Homo sapiens: one gene and its partners. The protein of the gene in region 1 purifies or fractionates together with the protein of each later gene. This does not show direct contact. Each region holds a gene or a part of one and is shown in the gene's direction. Other genes may lie near its edges.

Region 1 (3,500 bases):
CAGATTTCATATATTATTTTATGTAGGCGTATCTAACAAGAATACCAGAAGATAATTATCTTTCCAGTGCTGAGGAAAATACTTTCTTAAAAATGTCTTTAATATGTTTATCTTTGTCCTTGAAATTAGTCATTAGGAATGAATTTCCTTTTCCTCTGCTCCTCAGTATTCAGTTCTTAATTTGTCTCTTGACTGTACTGGAAGAATATAATATGCATTGGTATCCATGCTGTATAGTTAATGCAAACAAATAATTGCTATCTTCTTCAATTCAAGACTTCTCGTGGGATTGATGCTGAGAAGGTGAATCTGGTTGTAAATCTGGATGTACCATTGGATTGGGAGACATACATGCATCGGATTGGGAGAGCTGGCCGTTTTGGTAAAAAAAAAAAAAAAAGTTTGAGTGCTTTCTTTAAGGGGAGGGATCTATAATGTGACAGGTGGGCTTTGAATATTATTTTTGTGAAAATGATTTACTACCTAACATTCTCTCTGCTTTTAGGTACATTGGGGCTGACAGTGACCTACTGTTGCCGGGGAGAGGAAGAAAATATGATGATGAGAATTGCCCAGAAATGTAATATCAACCTTCTCCCTTTACCAGGTACATTTCATCTGTTTCATTATTTCAAAATAATTATAGTGGTGATAAGCATAATAAAAATGATAATAATAGCTAACAGAGTGCTTATGATGTGCTGGGTACTGTTCCCAGTCCTGTATGTACGTTAACTCATTTACTTCTCACCACACTCCTATGAGGTGTGTGCAATTGTTTTGTAGATGAGGATATTTAGACATAGAGAGGGTAAGTAAAGGTGTTACAGCTAGTAAGTAGCACGGAGAGGAGTGCAAGCTAACCACTGGCACATGAAAAATGAGAGCTGGCTAGGCGCAGTGGCTCACGCCTGTAATCCCAGCACTTTGGGAGGCCAGGACAGGTGGATCACATGAGGTCAGGAGTTCAAGACGAGCCTGGTCAATGTGGTGAAACCTCTTCTCTACTAAAAATACAAAAATTAGCTGGGCGTGGTGGCAGGTGCCTGTAATCCCAACTACTTGGGAGGCTGAGGCAGGAGAATCGCTTGAACCCAGGAGGTGGAGGTTGCAGTGAGCTGAAATCAAGCCATTGCACTCCAACCTGGGCAACAAGAGTGAAACTCCGTCTCAAAAAAAAAAAAAAGAAAGAAAAATGAGAGCTATGTTAGCTCTATTTTATTAGTTAGTGGCTTTGCAATTTGATTTTATTCTTTGATACAAGGGGGGATATTTTACCTCTTAAATTGTTGTGAAGGTAATTCTTGCCATATTCTCCTTTGTCACCATGTGGAAAGAACAGCATCTTTAATTTGAATACTATTTTGAAAAATTGGAGTGAAATGTTTTCTTTTGATTTCAGTTCAGTCATTTGTTCTGCTTCTTTTTAAGTGCCCTCTTGGAAACAACGCATGTTTAAAACTAGTAATGATCTCTTAAAAACAAAAAATTCTAAAAAACCCTTGAGTGGAAATATGGCATTTTTGACGTGCATGTTATACAGAAAATGTGCACTATAAATAGTGTCTATTCATATATAGATGTATGTCTATATAGAAAAATACACATATAGGTCACGCCTGTAATGCCAGCACTTTGGGAGGCTGAGGCGGGCGGATGACGAGGTCAGGAGATCAAGACCATCCTGGCTAACACAGTGAAACCCTGTCTCTACTAAAAAAAAATACAGAAAATTAGCCGGGCATGGTGGTGGGTGTCTGTAGTCCCAGCTACTTGGAAGGCTGAGGCCGGAGAATGGCATGAACCTGGGAGGTGGAGCTTGCAGTGAGCCAAGATCCGCCATTGCACTCCAGCCTGGGCGAAAGTGCGAGACTCAGTCTCAAAAAAAAAAAAGAAAAATACACATATAGTATATACATGACTTTGCAGAATATAGGATATGTAGTTATTGAATAAATATAATTGAGTATTTTACCGACTTTATATTTAATTATTTTACAGAGCTAGATTAAGCACAGATCTGGGAGTTCTATGTATTCTAGTAGATCGGGTTAGTAATAACTCATTTTATGATCTTTTACAAATCTCTGTAATTGCTGTAAGCTTAGAGTCCTGATTTGCAAAGTACTTTAGAGTAAATGGTCTTTAGGCTCTATGTCAGTTCTAAAACTGTCAGTTCTTTCTGTGTATAAGTCTATTCGTAGTCTGATATGGGAAAAAAATTGAAAATTGGTAGAAGAGGGTTAAGACTTCTTGTAGGATTCAATATCATAGCATCTAGTGATAAAAATTGCCTTTGGATACTGGAAAATGATATATTTGGATCTTTATGTAATGTTAATAGGGCCCTGAAATCATGAGAAAATGATATTCATGCTGTTAGGTCTGTATTGGACTGGGAACTTGTGTAACAACAGATGTTCAGATGAGTTTCCTGGGGCAGAACTAGGAGGGAAATTGGCCTGTATTATAGGACTAGGCAAGCAAGGGATATCAACTGAGTAGGAATGAGAGTTTTAATCATAGAATCTGTTCAGCAAAGGATCAAGAGACTTCATTGAAGTATCCAGACCTGTGGGATTTATAGATAACATGGAGCATAAATAGCAACAACAGGCAAGATCTTTGTAAAGCAGGGGCTTGATATATCTTGTCTGCCTAAGACAAAAATTGATCACACTTTGAAAGGTCTGAGTGTGGGAAGCAAATTGTCACACCTGGATGGAATAGAAAATTTAGAGGGTTGAAGCCAGCAAATTTTTTAAAAATTAGAAATGTCATTTCTGATTTTCATAGTCACAGATCTTTTCATAGTCATCTAGTTTTTTCCCCTATAGAGGTTTTCTCTTTATTGTTAAGGGCAGTGATTTCTCCCTGTTGGAATATTGGGTGACAGATTTAGTTGGGTGTACAGAGTTGCAGTTGTATTATTTCCTAGTTGATAAGCTTTGGGGAGCACAATCCATTTTCTAATATCTTGTTTTGCTGTCAGAAGTATTGAGATAAAGGGGAGGGGCTGTGGAGAGGGAGGAGAGAAAAGATGGGAGAATTGTTGCAGGCTTGTACATTACTCCTAGAGTAAGCTCTTTTTCTAGTGAGAGTGAGGGGAGATAGTGCTTGTGAGTATGGGATGGGTCTTACATATTTCTTAGGCAGGTTTCTTTATTACAGGATTGCTTCAGTCTTTAAAAATGTTATATCTATTAAACATCTTAGTATATTTGCATATTGTTTCTTAAATGTATTTGATCATAGAAAACTTTATGAAATCATTCAGAAAACAGTGGTCTAGAGTAGCTTGAGAATTTTAATACATTTTTCTTCCTTTTTATGTAGATCCCATTCCTTCTGGTCTGATGGAAGAATGTGTGGATTGGGATGTGGAAGTTAAAGCTGCTGTGCATACATATGGTATAGCAAGTGTACCTAACCAACCCTTAAAAAAGCAAATTCAGAAAATAGAGAGAACCCTTCAAATTCAGAAAGCTCATGGTGACCAC
Region 2 (3,500 bases), on another chromosome or scaffold:
CCAGCCTGGCCAACGTGGTGAAACCCTGTCTCTACTAAAAATACAAAAATTAGTTGGGCATGGCAGCATCTGCCTCTAGTTCCAGCTGTTCAGGAGGATGAGGCACGAGAATCGCTTGAACCCTGTAAGTGGAAGCTGCAGTGAGCCGAGATCATAGGGACATCATAGAGACCTCTACAGAGGTGATACGAGGTCTCAAAAAAAAGTAATAATAAAAGTATAGGAGGCTGTTGCAATACTGGGAATACTAAAGAAGAAAAAAAGCATAGGAGGAAAGGTTTTTCGTCATCATTAAGCCTAAGCCATCACTGATACCAACAAAGAACTCACACACAAGCTGTACTTGCAAGTGGAATGCAATTGCTTTTCCTCCTTTTTAATATTGACATGCCTATAGAGATGGTAAGACAAGACTAAAGAGCATTATCCTCTTTTCCACATAATTCTAGTGTCTATATTTCTCCTTAGTATCGCAGCACCATACCTAGCCCACGGTGGTTCTGGTTTATAATTGTGCTTCAAGCAAGCTTTTTCTAGGTATATCTGTCACTGTGAAATGAACTGGTGTGTTCAAGCTCACGTCTTGACATTATAAAGCTGTAAGAAAAAGTGTTATCATTACTTTGTTTTAGCTACAGGTGTGTTGGTGTGCAGCCTGTGCCGGTGTGAACAAGTGTGTGTGGTCAATCCAAAATGCATATGACATGCAGGGTTTGGCTCCTAGACCATTGTCTAGGTGAATGGCTTGTCTCCAGTTCCAAATTCAGTTTTCCTGCAGGGAGCCTACACAGTCCTTTTACTCGCACACATCCTGCTGAGAAGGATTTCAAAACAAACCTGATTTATTGGGCCTCTGACGTGATACCATGATTGAAAATTTGTTTGAGTCCTGTTGTTGTAGTTTACTTTGATTGCTGAAATAATTTCCCACAATATGGTGTCTTGATGTTTTCATTTTAATAAAGTGATATTCTTTGGATAACTTTGACTTCACTTCCTGCAAATAAAGAGCAAGAAAATAGGCAAAATCAAGAACATCTGAGCCCTGTGTACAGCAGTAAAATGAACTCTCAAATTTGAACAGCATCTCTGTTACACAGAGGTTGCCAAAAGGGCATGAGTATGACTTACATAAAACCGAGAACAGCGGTACTTAGGCTTCAGAAAAGGCCAAGCTTAAAATTCAGCCTTGTCACTTTTCTCAGCTCATTGCAGCTGTTTCCAGTCAGCTGTCTCCAGTGCAACTAAGGAATAGTCTCAGATGATTTCTGCACCACACTGCTGTGTGTGTGTGTGTGTGTGTGTGTGTGTGTGTGTTTAGGCCAGTTTGACATAGCATCACAATAGGGAAGACACTGATGTGCCTTTGCCGGGTCACTGATTCAAACATTGTACTTTCAATCTGTCATGGCACCCTTCTATAGAATGGCAACTAAAACTATTTTCAGAGAAAAGAGAAAATATTTTTCCATTGCAGACTCATAAGGTGACTGTTACAGTTTGTGGTTTCATTTCTCTGGGCCCTTAATAGGTTATGGAATCTGGGGAGCTGCCTTTGCCCTAATGAGCTAATAACTTTGTATATTTGGAGATATATATGTAGATACAGTTTTGTCCTTAAATCTTTGAATAGGTAGTTGTGGAGGCTAAAGCAACTCCATCTTGAATGCCAGTCCACCATGTTGACTTCTGATTAAACCCAGTTCTGGGAAGGCCTCTAAGATTTCCAATTTATCTGTTGTTTCTTGTGTAAGAGCATGTACTTACTGTAATTCCTGTCCTTACATGAGAACAACCTTGACGTTATCTTACTTCAATTGTCCTACACATCCCTTCTGAATCACCCTTTCCCTGTAGCATATAAGCCCTGCATCTGGGGGTCATGGCACGGGGATCCACCATCTTGTTTTGCCGCCACCTGAGACGCAGACGTGGCTTCTGTTCCTACATTCCTATTAAATATTTCTTTCTAAGGAAAACAAGAGTTACTGTAAGAGGCAAGTTTTAGGTCTTTAAAGAAGGGCATGATTGAGAACAGTTATTTTAAAATCAGGCTGTGATGGTATAATTTACATGTAGCAGGAGAAGGAAGAGTGGAGCTGAAAATGACCTGGATCTGGAAGGATGTGGCAATAGAGAAGGGGATTGGAAGAGTAACTTTCTCCAAAGATAAGGCATATGCTTTTTTGTCATATTTGGTCATAGAAACCTGACTCATATCCATTTGGAGCTTGCCACAGAGACGGCTGGAAAGAGAATGTGCACTCTGATTCAGAATGGGGAGCTCATTTTTGCCTTGGCGGTTTGCTCTGATAGGTGGTGCTAGTGTCGTACTTTTGATCACACAAGGATACAAGGAGAGCAATGCTTCCTGGAATTACACCTTATTAAATCTTTGGAAGAAAAAAATTAAAGGTACACGTTTGAGAAAGACCAATTGAAAGACCTGAATTTGCCATCTATTTAATTAGAGTAAGAGACTGTTGCTAAGATACCTGCTTGCCCTTTCTATTTTTGGAGGTGTGGGAAAGAAGTAATGTCCCTGTTTTTTTCCAAGTTAGAAAAAAATAGTCTTTCCACTCTTTGTATAAACATACATCATAGGGCAGGGGGCAGTATATATGTATGTGTAGGAAAAGAAATAATGCAAGCATGTGATCAGTTTCTAAGAAATTGAGTTATTGGGACTTAGTCCTGAAATAAATCTACAAGTTAACTATCTTAACCTCATTTTATGAATGAGGAAATTTGGAACTTAAAGAAAAAGTTATTCATCAGGTTCACACAACTAGTTATAATGACCTGAAAATTGTTTACAATGCTTGAATGCTTGATTTAATATGGCCTATAACACATATACACGCGCGCGCACGCGCGCACACACACACACACACACCCACACACCCATACACACCCTTAGCTAGCAAATGTACAAAGGACTTTAAAATACTGCTAGAAGAGAGGTAAATGATGATGGTCAGACCAGAATTCTCATGGTCTTTTCCAAAGTCACTGCTTCGTGTCGCTTCCAACTCCGAGTTATTCTCACACCGTTAATCTGACATAAACTCCTGCTAGTCTGCTAAGTCATTTTCTTCTAAGAATCTTTTATTAATTTATCACAGCCATCATTTATAAGCCAATCCATGACAGAGGGATAAGGTGGCTTCAGGAGGAACCAATTTAGTTATCCAAACTGAAGTGCAGGACTGTTGTTCTCCTTTATGTCACTAGAAACAAAGCAGGAGAGATTTTTCATTTGTCTACTGTCAATGCCAAATACTCTATATATCCAGACTTCTAAGACCTGACCAAAAATAAACTTTCTACAGAATTTTGCGTTGCAAACTTGGGAAAGAGTGAGACTGTGTACGCACGAGAAAGAGAGAGAGATTGGGGGTGCGTAGTGCGTGCCTGTAGTCCCAGCTACTCAGTGGGTTGAGCTAGGGGGATCGCTTGAGCCAGGGAGGTCAAGGCTGGAGTGAGCTGTGATTGTGCCA
Region 3 (3,500 bases), on another chromosome or scaffold:
GGAGTGCAGTGGTGCCATCTTGGCTCACTGCAACCTCTGCCTCAGCCTCAGGGTTCAAGCAATTCTCCTGCCTCAGCCTCCCAAGTAGCTGGGATTATAGGCATGTGCCACCACACCCAGCTAATTTTGTATTTTTTGTAAAGACGGGGTTTCTCCACGTTAGTCAGACTGGTCTCGAACTCCCAACCTCAGGTGATCCACCCACCTCGGCCTCCCAAAATGCTGGGATTATAGGTGTGAGCCACCACACCCAGCTGAATTCTTGATCTGTTGAGAGTGTGAGCTTTGACACTGGAAGAATTACTTAGGCTACCTATGTTTCTAACCTCTCAGTGACAAAATGAAAACGATAGTACCTATCTTGTACATTCTTGAGAGAATCAGCTGGCATAGTGCATGTAAGGTTCTTAGGATTGTGCTTATTATAATCATAATAAGCCATCAGTAAATATTAGCTGTTTCTATTTTTTGTTCTGAGGCAGGGAGTCTATGAGGGAAAGGTCCTATCCCATTTTAAAGCTCCAGACATCTCTGGAATTATGTGAGCCTTAGCTTTTAGGCGTAATAATTGAAAGTATATATGTCTGTTATTTATTTTGACAATAGTGGACTGCCTTTATCATCTTTTGCATTCAGACCTGCATTCATCGTGCTGCATGTGCATTTTGAAATCTGCTATAATCCAATAAGACAAATAAGCCAATTATGAGAGTTTAGATGGAAACTTGAGGTTACCATCTCCTTCTGTGACCCAAGATTAGGAATATTTACATGTCAGTGATTCCAAGATTAAATATTGAAGATTTAGAAAACCAAAAGTTACTAGAATCAGATTTTTATTCTAGCTGGTGACTAAGGTAGATTTCTTCAACTTTGTACAACAAACAAAGAGGATAATTTTACTTGTTTCTCATCAGGTTACAGGAACCAAAGAAAGACCTGATAGCCCGAGTAGTGAGGATTATTGGTAACAAAAAGGCAATTGAACTTCTGATGGAAACCGCTGAAGTTGAACAAAATGGTGGTCTCTTTATAATGGTAAGACTGCTTAACTGTTTTTGTTTTTGTATTGTTTATCCTGTGTTTTTGTTTTTGATTACAAATTTAACTTTGCCCTTGTTGGATCTGTGATTTATCATGCATTCTTACAGTATGTTTGAAGTTTTTAAACTATTATCAACAATGAAGACTGTTAAAAAAAAATTAGTTGCCAGGCACGGTGGCTCAAGCCTGTATTCCTAGCACTTTGGGAGGCTGAGGCGGGCCGATCACCTGAGATCGGGAGTTCGAGACCAGCCTGACCAACATGGAGAAACCCTGTCTCTACTAAAAATACAAAATTAGCCAAGCGTGGTGGCACATACCTGTAATCGCAGCTACTCAGGAGGCTGAGGCAGGAGAATCACTTGAACCTGAGAGACCAGAGGTTTCAGTGAGCTGAGATCGCACCCTTGCACTCCATCCTGGGCAACAGGAGCGAAACTCCGTCTCAAAAAAAAAAAGAATAAAAAGAAAAAAAAATTAGTACAGTTGTTTTTGCAGTTAGTACTTCCCTGACAAAAAAACAAACAAACAAACATAAATTATAGCCTGTTGCCGTATAGTCACCAAAACATTTCTTACATGATTTGTTAAAGGTAGGGGTTGAATTTTTTTTTTTTTTTTTTTTTTTGAGAAGGAGTCTCGCTCTGTCGCCCAGACTGGAGTGCAGTGGCGCAATCTCGGCTCACTGCAACCTCCGCCTCCCGAGTTCAAGCAATTCTCCTGCCTCAGCCCCCCAAGTAGCTGAGATCACAGGCATGCACCACCACACCCGGCTAACGTTTGTATTTTTAGTAGAGACGGGGTTTCACCATGTTGCCCAGGCTGGTCTCAAACTCCTGACCTTAGGCAATCCACCCAGCTCGGCCTCCCAAAGTGCTGGGATTACAGGCGTGAGCCACTGCACCCGGCCAAAGGGTTGAAGTTTTAAGACGACAAAGTCTAGGGGAGCCTAGGAGCTCAGATCTTGAGAATATGGGTTTTAGAGTTTGGGTACCCTTTTTTACTTCTAGATTTTCAACATACTAATTGAAATTCGGCTAAGTTGTTTGACTTCTTGGAGCCTCAGTCTCCTCAGCTGTAAAATGGAGATTAGTCCTACATTTTAAGGATTAGAGGAGATGGTGCACATGAAATACTGACCACAGTGCCCAGCACTTTAGCAATGGTAAACAGAAGTGTTCATTTTGGTTCACTTAATTCATGCATTCTTGAAAAAGAGGGCAAAAAAAAAAAACAAAACACCCTTTTTTTTGTTTGTTTGTTTTTTGAGACGGAATCTCACTCTGTCGCCCAGGCTGGAGTGCAGTGGCACGATCTCAGCTCACTGAAACCTCCATCTCCCGAGTTCAAGCAATTCCCCTGCCTCAGCCTCCCAAGTATGCTGGGACTATAGCCTGCCACCACGCCCAGCTAGTTTTTGTATTTTAGTAGAGGCAGGCTTTCACCATGTTGCCTAGGCTGGTTGAGAACTCCTGAGCTCAGGCAATCCGCCTGCCTCGGCCTCCCAAAGTGCTGGGATTACAGGCTTGAGCCACTGTGCCCGGTCAACACTTTTGTTATGTAAGCACAGATAGATACACAATAAAGTACAAATAGGTATACAGTATTTTTGTGTGTATTAAAATTTCCTGGGTATAAGAATGAAAGTTGGGGGAAGTCTAAAAAGTTCCTGGGGTGGTAGAGCAATAATGGGAGAAAAGTTTGAGAAGCTCTTTACTGTTTCAGAATGACAGAAAGAGCTCCTCTGGCTAGGCCAGATCACGAGCACTGGCGGTTATAGAAGGGTTTGGCATATCTCATTGAATTCAGCTTTCACCACAGGGTGAGGATGAAGGTTTGAATGACTTCCTTGTTTTTTGTTACTGATAAGTCTGAATACTGTAATAACATCACAAGGGAGTAGATCAATATTGTGCTTTGGACATGGGGAGAAAAAAAACCCAGTTAGGATTAATAGCATTGGCTAAGGAAACAGCCTGTGAACATAAATTACAGAAGTCAAAACAGAAGTTAGCAACAAAAGAAATTATAATAATCATGAATGCACTGCCATCCCTATTTGTGTCATTGTTAAAGTACTTCAATTTTCATTCAGTTGAACACAGAGTTACAGATTTCATCAATATTTTAGTACTGTAGTGATAAAACTTTATATTCCAGTGAGCTAATGCAGATTTACTGAATATTGGGAAGATGCAAGTTCAAATTTACTTTCTTATTTTATTTTATTTTTTGAGACACAGTCTGGCTCTCTTGCCCAGGCTGGAGTACAGTGGCGCGATCTCAGCTCACTGTATCCTCCACCTCCCAGGCTCAAGCCATCCCCCACCTCAGCCTTCTGAGTAGCTGGGATTGCAGGTGCGTGCCACCGCGCTTGGCTAATTTTTTGTGTTTTTAGTAGAGATGGAGTTTTACCATGTTGCCCAGGCTGGTTTTGAACTTGTGAGCTCAAGGAA
Region 4 (3,500 bases), on another chromosome or scaffold:
GAGTCTTGCTGTGTCCCCCAGGCTGGAGTGCAGTGGCGCGATCTCAGCTCACTGCAAGCTCCGCCTCCCGGGTTCACGCCATTCTCCTGCCTCAGCCTCTCGAGTAGCTGGGACTACACGCACCCACTGCCACCACGCCAGGCTAATTTTTTGTATTTTTAGTACAGTCGGGGTTTCACCATGTTAGCCAGGATGGTCTCGATCTCCTGACCTCGTGATCCGCCCGCCTTGGCCTCTCAAAGTGCTGGGATTACAGGCGTGAGCCACTGCACCCGGCCTTAAATAGATAAAATTTGTATAGGTCAGAAAATTGGGGAAGGGTGTATTTGGGTATTTCCATATACTTGTGTGTACTGAGTCTTCTTCCCAATATAGTTTCTCGGGTTTTCTCCTTTCTTTTCCACCTTTTCACAGAACTTTCTGCAAGTCTCATTTCCAGCTCCCCAGCGTCTTTCCTGAGTACTTGCCCTGCCCCGTGGGTCTTGCAGGAAGCCTTTACTCCTCGTCTTGCCCTCTCCAGGAGACACTTTGCATCCTCTGTACCCTTTATCTCTCAGGGTGGGGACGGGGAATGTCCTCATTCCCAAATGCTGTAGCCACACAATTGCTCTTTCGTCTTTGTGAAACTTTTCCCTTGAGGCTTATGCTGATTCTCTCTCCCGCTGACGACGTTGGCACTGTACAGCCTTCCGGTGCTCTCCTGTTCGCCCGCCATTTTGGTGACCTCAGGTATCCAAGCCAAAAGCCAGGGTCTCTCTCATCCTTTAATCTTTAATCTCCCTGTTCCTAACCCCTCACATCCAATTACTTCCCAAATCCCATCAAGTCTGCCTAATCTTCCTAATCCACCCACATCTGTCCCTCCCACTGCCTCTACTTTAATTCAAGGTCCTATTATTTTGGGCCTTATGTTGCTGAAACAGTCTCCTGCCTCCTTTTGCTCATTAAAACCGTATTTGTTGACTCTGCTTATTCTGCACCACGTGTTGGGGAAGCAGTGGTGAGAGCGAGGCAGATGTGATTCCCTCCTTCTCTGATAGGTATGACGGAAGGGGAGTGAGGAGCACCAGGGGCTATAGGAAAGAGGAACAGGGGCGCCTTGCTTAGCTGGAGGGGTTAGGGAAGCGTTCCCAGAGGAAGAAGCATCTAAGAGACCTGAAGGATGACTAGGATTCAGCCAGGAGGAGTCGTTGGGGGAGATGAAGGAAGAATATTCCAGACTTGGAGCCTAGGACATGTGAAAGCCAGTGGGTTGAAAGTGTGGCGAGTTGGCACTTTATGGGACCTGAGAGTCAAAATGGCGGGACTCAGAGATTTTTTTTTTTTTTTTTTTTTTTTTTGAAATGGAGTCTTGCTCTGTCGCCCAGGCTGGAGTGCAGTGGCGCGATCTGGGTTCACTGCAAGCTCCGCCTCCCAGGTTCACGCCATTCTCCTGCCTCAGCCTCCCGAGTAGCTGGGACTACAGGCGCCCGCCACCACGCCTGGCTAATTTTTTGTGTTTTTAGTAGACACGGGGTTTCACCACGTTAGCCAGGATGGTCTCGATCTCCTGACCTTGTGATCCGCCCGCCTTGGCCTCCCAAAGTGCTGGGATTACTGGCGTGAGCCACTGCGCCCGGTCAGGACTCAGAGATTTTTATGGGAATTAGCAGATAGAGATAAGCCTTGAGAGGTGGGTCGGGGGTAGCACGTGGTAATGGAAGACTAGGAGGAGGAACTGGCAAGATTTGGTATTGGGTTGGACCAGGAGTGGAAAGGAAGTGAAGAGTGGTAGCAGTCAAGGCTGGTGCTCAGATTTCAGGATTGAGCACTGGTGTGGAGTCCAGGAGGAACAGCAGGTTTGATGGTGGTGGATGCCGGGCCTATTATGGACAAATTGAGTTTGAGGAACCTGTGGGATGATCAAGTGGCACTGTCCACCAGGCAGTTGGATATATGGGTTCAGAGTATAGAGGTGGACACTGAAGTCCTGGCTGGTTGACATCAGCCTGAGGCCCAGAAGACAACTGACGAAGGACAGTGTCCAGACTATTTATCTCTCACAAATCAGTAAGAAAAAGACGGCTGGGCATGGTGGCTCATGCCTGTAATCCCAGCACTTTGGGAAGCCGAGGCAGGTGGATCACCCGAGGTCAGGAGTTCAAGACCAGCCTGACCAACATGGCAAAATCCCGTCTCTACTAAAAATACAAAAATTAGCCGGGTGTGGTGGCAGGCGCCTGTAATCCCAGCTACTCAGGAGGCTGAGGCAGGAGAATTGCTTGAACCTGGGAGGTGGAGGTAGTAGTGAGCCGAGATCGTGCCACTGCACTCCAGCCTGGGGACAGAGGGAGACTCTGCCTCCAAAAAAAAAAAAAGAAAAGAAAAAGAAAAAAGAGAAGAAAAGAAAAAGACAACAACTGGTCAGGCATGGTGGCTCACACCTGTAATCCCCACTTTGGGAGGCCGAGGTAGGCAGATCACTTGAGGCTGGGAGTTTGAGACCAGCCTGGCCAACATGGTGAAACCCCATCTCTACTAAAAAGTATAAAAATTAGCCGGGCGTGGTGGCAAATGCCTGTGGTCCCGGCTCCTTGGGAGGCTGAGGCATGAGAGTCGCTTGAACCCAGGAGGCAGAGGTTGTAGTGAGCCAAGATCGTGCCACTGCACCCCAGCTTGGGGAACAGAGAAAGACTCTGTCTCAAAAAGAAAAAAAAAGAAAAAGAAAATGGGCAAAATTTATGAAAAGGTGTACCTAACTAAATGGCCAGTAAACATAGAGGAAATATCTAATCTCTCTTATAGTAATGATGGAAATACAAATTTATGCTGTAATGAAATACCATTTCACCACCTTCAAATTGAGAAAAATGTAAAAGTCTGGCAATACCAAGAAGATAAAGAACAATAGACACTTTTTTTTTTTTTTGGAGACAGGATCTTGTTCTGTTGCCCAGGCTGGAGTGCAGTGGTGCGAACATGGCACACTGTAGCCTCAAACTCCTGGGGTCAAGCAGTCCTCCTGCCTCACTCTCCCAAACAGGTGGGACTACAAGTATGCCAATATGCCTGACTAATTTTTTAATTTTTTGTAAAACTGGGGTCTTGCTATATTGCCCAGGCTAGAATAGAGACTCTTATACACTGCTGGTGGGAGAGGACATTGGGACAAGTGCTTTGGGAAAGAAATTGACATTATAGTATCTTACAAAGTTTGCAAAGTGCATAGCGTAGAGACCAGTAATTTTACTCTTCAGCAGAAACTGTAGAGAAACCCTTCTACATGTGTACAGAATGTTAAAGCACACTAGCCAAAAAACAGAAAAACATCAGTGATTCTAAATAGAAGAAGGGTAGATCAGTTTGAATATATTCATGAGTAGAGTACTATACACCAGTGAAAATGCATGAATTAGAGCAAAATGTGTTTCCATGGTTAAAGCTTGCTATCACAGAGGGATGTATATGATATAATACCATTACTGTTAAGTCTAGGCCGGGCATGGTGGCTCATGCTTGTA
Region 5 (3,500 bases), on another chromosome or scaffold:
ATATTACTTGGCTGACTTAAGGTAACTATAATGGAAATGGATTCATTGGATTTGTCTACAAAGAGACTTGTGTTTGATTTTTTAATGTTCCCACATCTCTTTTTATAGATTATAATAATTTAGGTCATATGAAGATAAGATTTGCTTTTGCTGTTTTAATAAAGTCTTCTCAGTAACAGAGTTAAATTTAAAACAAATTTCTGGGCCAGGCCTGGTGGCTCACGCCTGTAATCCCAGCACTTTGGTAGGCTGAGGCGGGTGGATCACCTGAGGTCAGGAGTTTGAGACCAGCCTGGCCAACATGACGAAACCCTGTCTCTGCTAAAAATACAAAAATTAGCTGGACATGGTGGCAGGTGCCTGTAATCCCAGCTACTAGGGAGGCTGAGGCAGGAGAATCACTTGAACCCACGAGGTGGAGGTTACAATGAGCCAAGATCGCACCACTGCACTCTAGCCTGGGCAATGGAGTGAGACTCCGTCTCAAAAAAAAAAAAAAATGACTTTTGTAATCTAAAACAATAATATTTTTATTTCATCTAAAACATAAGTGAATTGACTATTAGCATGAATTATTTGTCTTACAGTTAGGGAAATTCTGTTTTAGGAAGGTACAACTATGTTTTAAATTTCAAGGTAAGATTATATCATAAAATTAAATCAATATTAGGTGCTTGACAAATATTTGTTGGATAAATGATTGATTGATTAGAGTTAGCATTTTAATTGCCATTCCTGTTCTTTATTTTTTCCTGTCAGTTAAGTAGTTACTGAATACTTAAAAAAAAGAATTGTGAAAAAATACTGCAAGCTGTATTACACTAGTGTCCTTTAATTTTTTTGCTTTTATATTTTTATAAACGATTAAACGTAAATTAGTATTGTTTCATAAGCAAATGTGTTTATGAAAATAAACATTTCTCTAAACAATATTTTTTCCCCATAACTTTAAAGTTTTAGAAGGTTACATGTGCAAGTTGTTACATGGGTAAATTGCCTGTTGCTAAGGTTTGATGTATAACCATCACCCAGGTAGTGAGGATGGTACCTGATGGGTAGTTTCTTAACTCTCGCCCCCTCTCCCACCTTCCCCCCGTTGTTGTCCCCAGTGTTGACTGCTCCCATCTTTAGGTCCGTGCTTACTCATTGTTTAGCTCCCACTTGTAAGTGAGGAAATGCAGTATTTGGTTTTCTGTTCCTATATTAATTCGCTTAGGATAATGGCTACCAGCTGCATCTATGTTGCTGCAAAGGGCATGATTTTATTCTTTTTCATGTCGACATAGTATTCCATGGCATATATGTACTGCATTTTCTTTATCCAGTCCACTATTGATGGACACCTAGGTTGACTCCACATCTTTGCAGTTGTGAATAGTGCTCCAGTGAATATGCAAGTGCATATGGCTTTTTGATAGAATGATTTATTTTTCTTTATTTTCCCTTATTTCATTAAAAACATTATAATTGAAATGACTATTAGCATGGATTATTTTAGTCTTACAATAAATAGTCATAGTTACTGGACGCAGTGGCTCAAGCCTGTAATCCCAGCACTTTGGGAGGCTGAGGCGGGCAGATCACGAGGTGAGGAGATCAAGACCATCCTGGCCAACATGGTGAAACCCCGTCTCTACTAAAAATACAAAAATTAGCTGGGCATGGTGGCACCTGTGCCTGTAATCCCAGCTACTTGGGAAGCTGAGGCAGGAGAATCACTTGAACCAGGGAGTTGGAGGTTGCAGTGAGCCAAGATCGCGCCACTGCACTCCAGCCTGGCGACAGAGCGAGATTCCATCTAAAAAAAAAAAAAAAAAAAAAAGTCATAGTTGGGGGAGTTCTGTTTTAGGAATGTTTTAAGCTTCATGAAGGTAAGGTTATATCATAAAATCACGTCTGTAGGGCCGGGTGCGGTGGCTCATGCCTATAATCTTAGCACTTTGGGAGGCCGAGGCGGGCAGATTACAAGGTCAGGAGTTCGAGACCAGCCTGGCCAATATGGTGAAACCCCGTCTCTACTACAAATACAAAAATTAGCCGGGCGTGGTGGCGGGCACCTGTAGTCCCAGCTACTTGGGAGGCTGAGGCAGGAGAATAGCTTGAACCCAGGAGGCAGAGGTTGCAGTGAGCCGAGATCACGCCACTGCAGTCCAGCCTGGGCAACACAGTGAGACTCTGTCTCAAAAAAAAAATTAAAAAAAATAAATTAAGTCTGTATTAGCTGCATGACAAATATTTGTTGAAAAAATACAGTAGTGAGACTGCTGGGTCGAATGGTAGTTCTGTTTTAAGTTCTTTGAGAGATATCCCAACTGCTCTCTACAGTGACTGAACTAAAATTACATTCCCACCAACAGTATATAGCATTCCCTTTTCTCTATAACCTCTCTAACATCTGTTTTTTGTTTGTTTGTTTTGTCTTTTTAATAATAGTCATTCTGACTGGTGGGAGATGGTATTTCACTGTGGTTTTGACTTGCATTTGTCAGATGATTTAGTGGTGTGGAACATTTTTCCATATATTTCTTGCCTATGTATATGTATTGTTTGGAGAAGTGTCTGTTCATGTCCTTTGCCCATTTTTTAAGAGTTTTTGGTTTTTGCCTGTTGAATTAAGTTCCTTACAGATTCTGAATATTAGACCTTTGTCAGATGCATGGTTTGCAGATGTTTTCTCCCAGGTTATAAGTTGTTTGTTTACTCTGTTGATAGTTTCTTTTGCTGTGCAGAAGCTCTTTAGTATAATTAGGTCCCACTTGTCAATTTTTGTTTTTGTCACAATTGCTTTTGGGCACTTAGTCATAAATTCTTTGCCAAGGCCAATGTCCAGGATGATATCTCCTAGATTTTCTTCGAGGATTTTTTTTTTTTTTTTTTTTTTTTTTGAGTAGGAGTCTGGCCCTGTCACCCAGGCTGGAGTGAGTGCAATGGTGCGATTGGCTCACTGCAACCTCTGCCTCCCGGATTCAAGCGATTCTCCTGCTTCAGCCTCCCAAGTAGCTGGGACTACAGATGCACACCACCACACCCAGATAATTTTTGTATTTTTAGTAGAGACAGGGTTTCACCATGTTGGCCAGGATGGTCTCGATCTCCTGACCTCGTGATCCTCCCACCTTGACCTCCCAAAGTGCTGGGATTACAGGCGTAAGCCACCATGCCCAGCCTCTTCTCGGCTTTTTATAGTTTTAGGTCTTATATTTATGTCTTTAATCCATCTTGAGTTAATTTTTGTATATGGTAAAAGGTAAGGGCCCAGTTTCATTCTTCTGCATAAGGCTATCCAGTTATCCCAGCACCATTTATTGGATAGGTAGTCCTTTCTCCATTGCTTGTTACTGTCAATTTTGTCAAAGATCAGATGGTTGTAGGTGTGTGGCTTTAGTTTTGGGTTCTCTATCCTGTTCCATTGCTCCATGTCTGTAATAGGCTGTTTTGGTTAGTGTAGCTTTGTAGTATAGTTTGAAGTGGGGTAGTGTGATTTTTCCAGCTTTGTTCTT
Region 6 (3,500 bases), on another chromosome or scaffold:
GATGGACGGGCCACACCCTCTGAGAACCTTGTACCCTCATCTGCTCGTGTGGATAAGCCCCCCAGTGTGCTGCCCTACTTCAATCGTCCTCCTTCGGCCCTTCCCCTGATGGGTCTGCCCCCACCACCAATTCCACCCCCACCACCTCTCTCCTCAAGCTTTGGGGTCCCTCCTCCTCCTCCTGGTATCCACTACCAGCATCTCATGCCCCCACCTCCTCGATTACCTCCTCATCTTGCTGTACCTCCCCCTGGGGCCATCCCACCTGCCCTTCACCTCAATCCAGCCTTCTTCCCCCCACCAAACGCTACAGTGGGGCCTCCACCAGATACTTACATGAAGGCCTCTGCCCCCTATAACCACCATGGCAGGTAAGGACTATTGTTCCTTTCAGATTTGAGCCAGGGTAAATAAGTGTATTAAGCATTTTATTCTCCCTGAGAAAGTGAGCACTGAATCCTTGTTCTTTCCCTTATAGACATTCTGTTATCATAGCATTGACTCCTGGGAAGTAGTACCATGTCCTTTATACCCCTTTTTAAGGTGCTTAATTAAATGCGGGAGCAGGTGTTATGAATGCTACAGATGTCTAGCATTGTTCTGTGTTATGCCAAAATTACCAAAGTGTTGTAGAGTACAGTAAAAATAATAAGGGATGTGAGCAATCAAGGATGGTATTTTCTCTGTACAGCCGAGATTCGGGCCCTCCACCCTCTACAGTGAGTGAAGCCGAATTTGAAGATATCATGAAGCGAAACAGAGCAATTTCCAGCAGTGCCATTTCCAAAGCAGTATCTGGAGCCAGTGCAGGTAACTCAGTGCTTACCTTTGCTGCCTTCTCCTTAACCTTTACTTTTTTTTCCTGATTTTGTCATTTCTACTGGCAAAAGTTCAACAAGATAAAGTTGGAGTACTGTAGATATCAAGAGCGGCATACTTTGAAGAGCAATATGTAACCTGATTTCTTGGCCTTGGGGAAGCTCCGGCAGTATTACTTAGTCTGTATCTAGGCCTGCCCTCATGAAAACCAACTTAATGCCTAGAATATAAATAATTAATACCATCTCGATGTGGTGTTTGCTGTAGAGTGAAATTCCTGCCTTGTGGAAATCTCCATCTCAGTGGTTGATCTTTAGATCTAGTGTCTGTGTAGTAGACCCAATACCAGATATAGACCCTGGGTCTTCTTTAGGAATGATGTTTTGACTGGATAATGTGTTTTTTTGTTTGTTTGTTTTGAGAGGGAGTCTTGCCCTGTCGCCCAGGCTGGAGTGCAGTGGTGCAATCTTGGCTCACTACAGCCTCCACCTCCTGGTTTCAAGCGATTCTCCTGCCTCAGCCTCCCAAGTAGCTGGGATTACAGGCACTTGCCACCACGCCCGGCTAATTTTTGTATTTTTTTGTAGAGACAGGGTTTCATCATATTGGCCAGGATGGTCTTGAACTCCTGACCACAAGTGATCCGCCTGTCTCGGCCTCCCAAAGTGCTAGGATTACAGGTGTGAGCCACCACGTCCAGCCTAGATAATGGTTTGCTATGAAATCTGATTACATTTAGGAGTCTAAGCAGAGCTGGTAGGTAGCCTATCCTAAAAAGAGGCAAGTCTGTAGATGTCATCTTAAGGCATGTTATGCCCTTACAGCTAACTTTTGCCCTGCTCTCATTATTAAGTGGGTAGAACCAGCAGCCATGATTCTGAAAGCCCTGAGCATAAGATCTTTAGTTTCTAAAAGAAGAGGCTACAGGAAGTTTCAGAGTTCTGGTCCGGTTTTCACATCGTGACATTAGCCATATTCACTTCCTTCCTGTGAGTTTCCTACATGAATGTAAATGTCTGTAGATTATCAGATCTCCTAAGAAATAAGTTAGCCCTAAATATTATCATCTGCTTTCCATCAGTTTTCATCTTTGCATCATCTTGCCAAACTTGAATCCACAGAGAAGGTTAAAGACAGAAAGTACATATGTTCCCTTCATTTTTTTCCCACCAGAAAAATCTACATTGACATCTAAATTAGTCTTTTTTAGGCCAGGTGCAGTGGCTCATGCCTGTAGTCCCAGCACTTTGGGAGGCCAAGGCCGGTAAATCACTTGAGGTCAGGAGTTTGAGACCAGCATGGCAAAACCCCATCTCTACTAATAATACAAAAATAAGCCAGGCATGGTGGCACATGCCTATAGACCCAGCTACTTGGGAGGCTGAGGCACGAGAATTGAGAATTGCTTGAACCCAGGGCGTGGAGGTTGTGGTGAGCCGAGATTGTGCCACTGCACTCCAGCCTGGGTAACAGAGTGAAACTGTGTCTCAAAAAAAAAAAAAAAAAAATTAGTCTTTTTAAATTAAAAAGTAATATATACCCATGGGTTATATGGGTTAAATACACAGAACAGTATAAAGAAAGTACTCATTGTTCCTTCTTCCTCATCAACCCTTTCACACTAAGATGATCAATAACTGAATCTTGATCTCCTGTTGTTCTCATTCCAGTCATTCAAACCACAAATACTTATTGAAGATACTACAAAAACAGGCAAAAATTCCCTGCCAGGATGGAGCTGATGTCTTCATATTCTTGTGCCTCCACTGGACAGTTTCTCCATAGTTTCTGTTCTTGTTGCCTTGCACAGAGGAAGCTGCCAGGCTTCATTTTCACTGGACCCCTGCCTGAATTCATATTTTCTTTGTATTAACTTTTGTCCTTAATGCTCTTGACTTAGCTTGGAAAAGCAAAGTGTAGGTACCCGCCCCATGACCACTATCCCTGAGCCAGGCATTACTCAGAGTTGGGAAATGAAAGGCCTAGTTTTTTATGACAGCATAAATTTTTTTTTTTTTTTTTTGAGACGAAGTCTGGCTCTATTGCCCAAGCTGGAGTAGTGCAGTGGTCTGATCCCGACTCACTGCAACCTCTCCCTCCCAGATTTAAGCAATTCTCCTGCCTCAGCCCCCCAAATAACTGGCATTACAGGTGCATGCCACACTGCCTAGCTAGTTTTTGTATTTTTAGTAGAGACCGGGTTTCACCATTTTGGCCAGGCTGGTCTCGAACTCTGGCTTCAAGTGATCCGCCCACCTCGGCCTCCCAAAGTGCTGGGATTACAAGTGTGAGCCACTGCATCCAGCCATAATTTTTTTAATGTATACATATACTACGCATACATGTTTTATGTAAATATCATATATATACACACATACATCTGATGGTAGGTTAAAAATAACTTGTAGAAATACACATTATTTAGAAAGTCTCATGAGGTACAGTGGCTCATACCTATAATCCCAGCACTTTAGGAGGCCCAGGCAGGAGGATCACTTGAGGCCAGGAATTCAAGACCAGCCTGGTCAACATAGTGAGACCCCATCTCTACAAAAAATTTTTGAAAAATAAGCCAGGTGAAGTGGCATGCAGGAGGATGGCTTGAGCCCAGGAGTTCAAGGATGCAGTGAGCTATGATCATACCACTGCTCTTCAGCCTGGATGATAAAACAAGACCCATC
Region 7 (3,500 bases), on another chromosome or scaffold:
GTAGCTGGGACTACAGGTGTTCGCCACCATGCCTGGCTAATTTTTGTATTTTTAGTAGAGACGGGGTTTTACCATGTTGGCCAGGCTGGTCTTGAACTCCTGACCTCAAATGATCCACTCACCTTGGCCTCCCAAAGTACTGGGATTACAGGCTTTGAGCCACCATGCCCAGCCCTAATGCACCCAAAATTAAGATGGAGAACTGATCCTCCATGACTTCAGTGATGAATAAGCCTCCACGTCTCCCCCACTGCGGGTGTGGCAACAAAGAATCCCCACAGCAAAATTAGGTTTCACATTGTGTGTGTGGTTTTTTTAAAAAAATGTGCCACACACTGCCTAGTTATTTGGAGATAGAGGAATGTTTCACATGCAAATGTATGAGGATCTAACCCAGCCCTGGATCACTACCTACTGATCCCCTACAGTTCTGTTATGTTTGTAAATTTGTACTTTTTCCTTTAGCTTAGTAGAATATTACTGCCCATCCCCAAAACTATGATTTCCTGGAAGATTTCAGTATTTAGTCTACTATATTTCTTTTTTTGCTTTTTTTTTTTTTTTTTTTGAGACAGAGTCTCACTCTGTCCTCCAGGCTGGAGTGCAGGGGTGTGACCTTGGCTCACTGCAACCTCTGCCTCCTGGGTTCAAGTGATTCTCCTGCCTCAGCCTCCCGAGTAGCTGGGATTACAGGCACACGCCACTCTGCCTGGCTAATTTTTGTATTTTTAGTAGAGACGGGGTTTCACCATGTTGGCGAGGCTGGTCTTGAACTCCTGACCTCAAGTGATCCGCCTGCCTCGGCCTCCCAAAGTGCTGGGATTACAGGCGTGAGCCACTGCGCCTGGCCCAGTCTACTGTATTTCTGTGAGCAAAACTTTGCCTATTTTCCCTTTGAAAGCCATATCAAAATTATTGTCAGCTCATATGTGATGGATGATAAGTACTTTTATTTTTTCCAGTTTCCTTGCACAATTTCAAAGGTGCTTATGCACTGTACATCTCATATGCCAGCCAAGCTGGCACTTACTTCCTGGACTGTTGCTTGGGGTAGGGAGTTCCTTCTATACCCCTGCCTTGTAGCTCAGCTCATCCTTCCCCCAGAGCTGGCTAGAAGCAGTGTTTATGGAATGAGTGCATGAATCAGTGAATGAATGACTGGTGGATCGGCTGCCTGCGCCCCCTCACCCTCTGCTTGTCTCCAAAGGCGGGGAAGCTGGCTGTGGAGCGAGGCTGGGCCATCAACGTGGGTGAGTGCTGGGAATGTCCTCGGGAATGTCCAGCCCGGCTTGGTGGAACTGGCCTGAAAGGGGGCTGGGGGAGGGCGGGAGGATCCTGGAGGTGGCAGCTGTGAATTCAGAAGCTCTGGTTTTCCCAAGTCACCCTAGCCTCCTTGTGGAGTGGCCTGGAGGTTGATGTGTAGCCTCCTAGGTACCTGGGAGAGACTGACCAGTGCCTCCATCTGACGTGGGATCCTTGTCTAAGGAGGTCCCCGGGTGGTTCCCCAGCCCCCTCTTTGCGTACTTCCGGTGGCAGGGAGCTTCCTCCCTTCCAGAGAGCGTGTGCCATCCTTGGGCAGCTCAGCATGGTCTGAAGCCTGCCTTGTGTCTTCCCTGAAGGACTCCACCTGTGTCCTGGGGCCCAGGACAGCCCACAGAGGCTTGGTCATGTTGGGTTGGGTGGGCACATCCTGGGTCAATACCACCACCTTCTCAAGGGTCCAGAGGGCCCGTGCTCCCCAGCCCCCTTGAATCTCCCACAAGATTGGCTCATGGGAGGGCTGCACGGGAGTCTCCCTTGTCCCTGTCATTGTCCCTCCTGGAGGCACAGCACTTGACAATTTACAAAGCTCTTTTTCACCAGGCTCTTTTTTTCTTTTTCGAGACGTAGTTTCACTCTTGTTGCCCAGGCTGGAGTGCAATGGCGCGATCTCGGCTCACCGCAACCTCCGCCTCCCAGGTTCAAACAATTCTCCTGCCTCAGCCTCCTGAGTAGCTGAGATTACAGGCATGCACCACCATGCCCGGCTAATTTTGTATTTTTAGTAGAGACAGGGTTTCTCCATGTTGGTCAGGCTGGGTCTTGAACTCCCGACCTCAGGTGATACGCCCACCTCGCTCGGCCTCCCAAAGTGCTAAGATTACAGACATGAGCCACCACGCCCGGCCTTCACCCAGACTCTTATTTGAGCTGGGCATAATTGTCAGGCCTGTCTCACTGATGAGGAAATGGCCATGGAAAGATGCGTACTGGATCGTGTAGAGCCCTAAAGCAGGGTCCCCCAGCCTTTGGCTCTGAACTCTGCAGGGGAGAGTCCACCTTGGGCCACTGCACAGTTGAGGGGAGCCCCACTCTGCAGGGGCTGGGTCTCTTCCATCTTGGTATTACCAGGTGCCTAGCATTCAGTCTGGCATAGTAATGATGTTATGGTACTCTGCTGCACAAACCCGGGAGTGATCTGTGCCCTGCGTGTCTACAGCAGGGTTCCGAGGAGGGCCTGGATGGCCCTCCCCATGGCAGGTGTTACTGCCTGGTAGAGGTTAAGAGCCTGGATCCTGATCCACCCTGGGTTTGATCCTGGTTCTGCCATTACCTGGCTGTGTGACCCTGGGCAAGTTGCTGACCTCCTCTGTGGGTCAGTCTCCTCATCTGTAAAATGGGGATGGTGATGCTAATGCCCCTCCTCGGGCTGGAGGGAGTCTTCAGCAAGCTCAGTTGCTCAGTCAGGTGTTCACTGTGGCTGTCTTCTCATCATTAGGAGCCAACAGTAGCCTCCTGGGGGGTGGGAGAGGCAAGTTCCTGGTATCCATGGGGCCAGCTGCACACTGTCTGACGGAGCAGTTGTTGGGCTCAATTTCAGAGGGCCTCTGCAATTCAGGCCATCCCAGGGGCTGCAGGGGAGGGGGTATCTATGGGCCCTAGGGCTCTGAGGCTGTGTCTCAGGGTTGAGGGGTGATGGATCCCGGGCTCTAGGGCCCTCCTCGTGGCTGTAGGCAGTCATGACCAGCAGAGGGTGCCCTTCCTGACCACCCGCTTTGGCCACTGGCAGAATCCGTGTGGCCCCCATACCACCACTCCTTCCTGGAGTGGGGAGCCACATGGAGCCAGGCCCAGCTTGGTGGGGACAAGGAGCAGCTTTCTGCTTCTGGAATGATGAGCTATCTGTTGCTTAGGGGTGTGAGTGGCACTGAGGACTTGCTGGGGACACCCTGAAGATGTGGCTGCCTTCTGGCCTGGGGATGGTGACATGCCCCAGCACTCAGCTTAGTTTGCCAACCCAGAGTCCGAGGCACAGGTTCCTGAGAGCTGAGCAGGGAGGATGCTGGGGGAGGTGAAGGGATGGAGGAGCTCCTGGACTGAGCCTGGGAGCCTGGCTCTGAGCAGCACCGCTCTCTGCCCTTCCGCAGGGGGTGGCTTCCACCACTGCTCCAGCGACCGTGGCGGGGGCTTCTGTGCCTATGCGGACATCACGCTCGCCATCAAGGTGTGTCTATGAGCAA

Evidence for each region.
Region 2: the proteins of DDX20 (region 1) and LSM11 purify together in Homo sapiens (affinity purification with mass spectrometry; 2 studies listed by BioGRID and IntAct, with this or other methods). This does not show direct contact.
Region 3: the proteins of DDX20 (region 1) and PHAX purify together in Homo sapiens (affinity purification with mass spectrometry; 2 studies listed by BioGRID and IntAct, with this or other methods). This does not show direct contact.
Region 4: the proteins of DDX20 (region 1) and WRAP53 purify together in Homo sapiens (co-immunoprecipitation; one study listed by IntAct). This does not show direct contact.
Region 5: the proteins of DDX20 (region 1) and USO1 purify together in Homo sapiens (affinity purification with mass spectrometry; 2 studies listed by BioGRID and IntAct, with this or other methods). This does not show direct contact.
Region 6: the proteins of DDX20 (region 1) and CPSF7 purify together in Homo sapiens (affinity purification with mass spectrometry; one large-scale study listed by BioGRID and IntAct). This does not show direct contact.
Region 7: the proteins of DDX20 (region 1) and HDAC11 purify together in Homo sapiens (affinity purification with western blotting; one study listed by BioGRID and IntAct). This does not show direct contact.

Annotation. Positions count from the first base shown.
Region 1 is NC_000001.11:111,762,401-111,765,900, forward strand, and holds part of DDX20 (probable ATP-dependent RNA helicase DDX20), read left to right. Parts: intron 1-276; coding exon 277-382; intron 383-505; coding exon 506-607; intron 608-3,336; coding exon 3,337-3,500.
Region 2 is NC_000005.10:157,746,712-157,750,211, forward strand, and holds part of LSM11 (U7 snRNA-associated Sm-like protein LSm11), read left to right. Parts: intron 1-3,500. UniProt on the Homo sapiens protein: Component of the U7 snRNP complex that is involved in the histone 3'-end pre-mRNA processing. Increases U7 snRNA levels but not histone 3'-end pre-mRNA processing activity, when overexpressed. Required for cell cycle progression from G1 to S phases.
Region 3 is NC_000005.10:126,607,447-126,610,946, forward strand, and holds part of PHAX (phosphorylated adapter RNA export protein), read left to right. Parts: intron 1-917; coding exon 918-1,038; intron 1,039-3,500. UniProt on the Homo sapiens protein: A phosphoprotein adapter involved in the XPO1-mediated U snRNA export from the nucleus.
Region 4 is NC_000017.11:7,694,977-7,698,476, forward strand, and holds part of WRAP53 (telomerase Cajal body protein 1), read left to right. Parts: intron 1-3,500. UniProt on the Homo sapiens protein: RNA chaperone that plays a key role in telomere maintenance and RNA localization to Cajal bodies. Specifically recognizes and binds the Cajal body box (CAB box) present in both small Cajal body RNAs (scaRNAs) and telomerase RNA template component (TERC).
Region 5 is NC_000004.12:75,731,077-75,734,576, forward strand, and holds part of USO1 (general vesicular transport factor p115), read left to right. Parts: intron 1-3,500. UniProt on the Homo sapiens protein: General vesicular transport factor required for intercisternal transport in the Golgi stack; it is required for transcytotic fusion and/or subsequent binding of the vesicles to the target membrane.
Region 6 is NC_000011.10:61,412,976-61,416,475, reverse strand, and holds part of CPSF7 (cleavage and polyadenylation specificity factor subunit 7), read left to right. Parts: coding exon 1-371; intron 372-691; coding exon 692-810; intron 811-3,500.
Region 7 is NC_000003.12:13,497,306-13,500,805, forward strand, and holds part of HDAC11 (histone deacetylase 11), read left to right. Parts: intron 1-1,207; coding exon 1,208-1,250; intron 1,251-3,407; coding exon 3,408-3,484; intron 3,485-3,500. UniProt on the Homo sapiens protein: Responsible for the deacetylation of lysine residues on the N-terminal part of the core histones (H2A, H2B, H3 and H4).